Regions from separate parts of the Homo sapiens genome. Here region 2 is linked to region 1. A link means that fine-mapping ties the variant in region 1 to the expression of a gene that starts in the linked region. Tissue or cell type: lung. Region 1 holds a variant in brackets; the other region holds the start of a gene. All regions are shown on one strand. Distances are between the middles of the regions.

The links. PIP is the estimated chance that this variant, and not a neighbour inherited with it, causes the effect.
Region 2: ZNF630 starts here. The variant in region 1 is fine-mapped to the expression of ZNF630 in lung (TOPMed, PIP above 0.99).

Annotation. Positions count from the first base shown.
Region 1 is chrX:48,025,945-48,028,630 of GRCh38, forward strand. No RefSeq gene overlaps it. Among named protein-coding and RNA genes, the nearest start is that of SPACA5, 20 kb to the left of the region's middle. The variant A/G (reference allele first, on the strand shown) is at 1,315.
Region 2 is chrX:48,070,093-48,072,778 of GRCh38, forward strand. ZNF630 (zinc finger protein 630) reads right to left here and starts at 1,548. Exons shown (of 5, transcript NM_001282201.2): 1 at 1,175-1,548. RefSeq lists an enhancer at 1,519-1,778 and a silencer at 1,690-1,886.

The sequences.
Region 1 (2,686 bases):
ATTGGTAAAAGAATCCTGGATGGTCTCAAGCGGTGGAACTCTAAACTTGGAATGCCATTGCATCAGTTTGGCATGGGACTGCTTTGTGCTGTGTCACATACTCTACATTTGTGGGTTTTCTCTGTGCCTCACTAGCCTGGCCAAGCAGTAACACCAGTATTTGAATGAATCCACTTCATTAGAACTGACTTTTGGGATCAGGTGTGGAACTGCCTGGGGAAGGAGGTCACCCTGCCCGCCTGGAGCCCCACTAGGCAGGGAAATGCTGGGGCACGCACAGGGCGCTATAAGGCCTGTGGGTCTGAACACAAAAGGTTGGGGGAGTACACATCTCTGGACTGAGGGTAGGCTATCCTGACCCCATGACTGGCTAGAGTGGTAGGAGCCCCGTGAGTTGGCCCTGTGATTTTGGGTACCCTGAGACGCATATGACACGTGAACATGGCTATAAAGCAGCGATGTCGGGCTGACGTGGATCCCCTAAGCACAGCTGGGGGAGGCGCTTTTGTAAACAGCTAGCATGCCTCTGTTCTTGTCGCATTTGAATTTGCTATTACAGATGACATCATTTCTGTTCCTTTCCGGAGCAATATCAAGACCCCAAATTTGTTGAGGTGGGGCAAAACTGTTACTTCACGTGACTAAAGACGTTTATATTGCTGTCCCAACCAGGACTCCAAAGGAGGTGGCTGTCCTCTTGAATCCAAACCAGGGGACCCATGTTGGGCTTGCGCGCTTCTCGCCAGGACACGGCCCAGAGGGTAGGTCTCTCATTCATAGTAGCCACATTAAGCCTGGCTGTCTACTCTAGTCTATGATCGGGGCATAGAATAATAATAACCCTTATTGTGCTACGCCACCTTGTGGTCATATAATCTTCTTTCATCAGAGGAGACCAGAAGGCGTAGAAGACCCCGGAGAAGAGGACTGGCGCCCTCTAGAGGATGACGCGACACAATACCACCATGAGAGAGTGAGGAACTTGACCTTCTCCTTTGCCAGTCACCAACAGCAAAGTCAAAAAAACAGAAGAGACAACAGGGGAGGGTCAAGAAGGAGAGGCCATTTCTCATTTGGAGGAGGAGACACCCTCTGTCTCACCCGGAGCCCCTGCCTGTCCGTAAGGACCTAGCCAGGGAACCAAATGAAAAAGCTACCGATGGCCGGGCGTGCTGGCTCACGCCTGTAATCCCAGCACTTTGGGAGGCCAAGGCGGGCGGATCATGAGGTCAGGAGATCGAGACCATCCTGGCTAACACGATGAAACCCCGTCTCTACTAAAAATACAAAAAGAAATTAGCCGGGCGTGGTGGC[A/G]GGCGCCTATAGTCCCAGCTACCGGGGAGGCTGAGGCAGGAGAATGGCGTGAACCCGGGAGGCGGAGCTTGCAGTGAGCCGAGATCACGCCACTGCACTCCAGCCTGGGCGACAGAGCGAGACTCCGTCAAAAGGAAAGAAAAGAAAAGAAAAAAGCTACAGACAATGTATCGAACAGAGCACAGCAAGCTCCACCTGACAGGGGCTGAAGTGAAGCACTTGGCTGCCCCAGGACGGTATGGAAAAGTGGCTTCCCTACTAAAGGATTCTGCACAGTTAGTACAGAAGCTGAGAGTGACTCCCAGGAGGCTTTGCATTGCAGTCCATGTACACCTGGTCAGTATGGATTTTGCATTTTTGTGAATTTTGGTGGCTTGGAAAGCTGCCCACCCTACACGAGGCCTCACAACCCCCTGGGCAGAATGGCGGTGGAAAACGTTAGCTGAGGCCAAAGATGTCCTCCATCAGCTCTGCACATTCCAGTGGGATTATCTGGTGACAGATGGCAGGGCATGAGGACTCTATAGTCTGAGGAGGCTGAATGGAGTGCTGAGCCCACACAGTAGTTTCTCAGGGAGCACCTGACAAGTACAAGTCCTGATTTCTGTCAGCGATGGCTAAGGCTAAACAATCCACCAGGCCATGGCTGCCCTGGATGGAATAGAATCTCATGGAGGACAAACTCACAGCCCAGTGTTGCCTGCAGTTATGAAAACAATGCCCCACCTGGCCTAAATCACAAGGAACATCACCGGCAAGGCCGCCCCCTCATAGTGCAAATAAACCACCACCAGCCAGGCCCCCAGTTGAGCGGGAACCCTGAGATGCACGGAAGAGGTCATCTATTAGTCAGGGTTCTGCAGAGCAACAGAACCAATAGGAGGCGATATGTCTACGTCTATGTGGAGATATGTGGGATTTATCGTAAGGAATTGGCCCACATGGGCCCAGAGGCCCACAGATCCCAAGACCTGTAGTTGGCAAGCTGGGAACCCAGGAGAGTGGGTGGTGCAGGTCCAGTGTGACGGCCAGCAGACTTGAGGCCAATGAAGAGCTGACGTTTTAGCGCATGCTCCAAGGCGGGAATAAACTGATGTCCCAGCCCCAGCACTCAGGCAGGAGGAGTCCTCTCTGACTCACGGAGGGTCAGCAGTCCTGTTTGCCTCAGGCTTTCAACTGGCTGGGTGGGGCCCCCCACATCTAGGAGGGAGGTCAGCTTCACTTAGTCTTCCAGAGAAAGGTTAAGCTCACCCAGAAACACACTCACAGCCACACCCAGGACAGTTTGATCCATTGTTTAGGCACCCTGTAGCCCAGGCAAGTTGACACGTAAAATTCACCATCCCGGGTTGTATGGAGCCTCAAGGGACAA
Region 2 (2,686 bases), 44 kb after region 1:
CGTGATCCGGCCGCCTCGGCCTCCCAAAGTGCTGGGATTATAGGTGTGAGCCACCACGCCCAGCCGATATTGTCTGCTTTTTAACTGAAGAATGTGCTTTACAGTTCAAAATTAACTGAAAATCTTCATATTTAAAGCCATAAAATGAAAAGAGAAGCCAAAAGCTGGAAGGAGATATTTGCAAAACACATACCACTACTAAAGGAGTGGTATCAGAATATATAAAAACAATTCCTGGCCGGGCACGGTGGCTCACACCTGTAATCCCAGCACTTTGGGAGGCCGAGGTGGGTGTATCACCTGAGGTCAAGAGTTCGGGACCAGCCTGGCCAACATGGCGAAACCCTGTCTCTACTACAAATACAAAAAAATCAGCCAGGCGTGGTGGCAGGCGCCTGTAATTCCAGCTACTCGGGAGGCTGAGGTAGGATAATTGCTAGAACCCAGGAGGTGGAGGTTGCAGTGAACCATGATTTCTCCACTGCACTCCAGCCTGGGCGACAGAGTGAGACTTCGTCTAAAAAAAAAAAAAAAAAAAAAAATTCCTACAAATCATTAAGAAAAGGGCAGAGAGTCCAACAGAAAAATGAACAAAAGACAGGCCCCTCACAAAAGAAGATCTCCAAGTGATGAATCCATATAAGAAAATGTGCTCAAACTTATTGGTCATGAGGGAAATACAAATCAAACCACCAAGTTGGACTTCTCCATCGGAATGTGGACACCACAGGAGCAGAGATTTTTGTTCATTCATGCACATATGATTGATCTGAAAAAGCCACCCATCATGGACCCCACAGAATGTCAACACTGACCCCACACACACTCCCATTCTTGTCCTCATAGACCCTCATCCCTCACCCCAGATCCCCCTATCCACTCACCCCACGGATCAGCATCCCTCACCCTACAGACCACCCATCACTCACCCCAGACTCCCTTCACCCATCCCATAGAAGCCCCATCACTCACCCTTACAGACATCATCAAACACCGCACAGATCCCCCATCACCCCACAAACTCCCATTTGCATAACCCACATACTGTTACCCCTGGTCCCACAGGCTCCCCTATCACTGTTCTCCACGTCACTCAATCCCCTCCTCAGGCCCTCCACTTGTCTCCATCCGTCACTGATCACATAGACCCGCAGCACTCAGCCAGGCCCCTCACCCCGGCTCTGCTCTCAAGCCGGGCTTGGCTCCCCGCCTGCCCAAATGCGTTCAACATCCCCCGAAAGGCCATTTCCCTTCCAGTCTTCCCGGAGAGATGTCAGGGTGACGAGGGAGCTTATCTTTCGGTGGCTCCGAAACAGCCACGAAGCCGAGCTCTACCAGTAACAAAAATGGCGTCATTCCGCCAGCGCCAGGACCTCTGTCGCTGGCCGTGGTCTCGCACTGCTTCTGGAGGCTCCCATTCCAGCCAGAGGAGAGGTGCGTTTGGGGGCCCGGGGGAGTCCTCGTGATATCTCCGAGTTTGGGTATTCGGAATTGATCCTACGAAAGCAGTGTGAGGCTTGGAAGGGCCGCGACTTGTCCGGGTGAGTGGGCGTTCCCGGCCACCAGAAGAGGCACGGCCTGAGCAAAGGCGTGGCGACATGGCAGGGTGGGAAACGGGGAAAGTGGGAAGGCTGGACAGAGCACCCCCCGGGAGATTCCTCCGCAGAAGCGAATTCCTAAAACGTCTGGAGAAAGGGAAGAGACCTTTGACATCATGCAGCCTTTCAGGGGGCTCACACATACCCGCCCACTTCTCCCCACCTGGCCTCGGCGCCCTGCCGCCTTCCTATTGTTCCTGCTTGGCGTCAGGACCCGCCCCCATCTGTCACTCACTGCCCACCGGTCCTCCATTGGCTCCTTTGAACACGGAAGGGCCCACCTTCACCTGTCATTTACAGCCTGGACTTCTGCCTGCCCTAGTTCAAGTAGGCTTATATGGCCTTTTGCAGCCCGTATCAAAACTAAAAGAGTTCATAGAGTCAGAGGTTCGAGGTAAAACCTAAGGGACATTGGTTTTAGACGACTTAACAAAGGGCTGGATTGGAAGTCAGCCCGGAACAGGATTGCAGAGTTAACAAAGGTTCATGTTCGATACAAAACGGGAACTCTGATGGTTACAATAGTTAAGAAAGTCCTAGGATTCAAGACCTCTATCAGGGTGTATGGATGGAGAAAACATTAACAAATATCCTGCTTGAAGATCAAATCAGAGGGGCACTGGTGGTGCAATAGTAACCCAATTCCAAAGTTATTTCAGAGAGGCCTTAAATGGAAGGTTAACTTAGACCCAAATCTGAGCCAAGACCAGAGACCCATTAAAGTCACGTGATGTGGTTAACAGAGCCCCGGAATTCACAGCCTATACCAAAGGGGTAATGATGGTGGAAGAATTAATCAAGGTCTGACTTCAAAGTCAAACCAAATGGCATTCATGATAAAAATGTTAACTGAGGGCTGGGCACAGTGGCTAACACTTGCAATCTCAGAACTTTGGGAGGCCAAGGCGGGAGGATCACTTGAGGCCAGGAGTTAGAGACCAGCCTGGCCAACATGGCAAAACCCTATCTCTACTAAAAATACAAAATTTAGCCAGATGTGGTGGCACATGCCTGTAGTCTCAGCTGCTTGGGAGGCTGAGGCATGAGAATCGCTTGAACCTGGGAGGTGGAGGTTGCAGTGGGCCAAG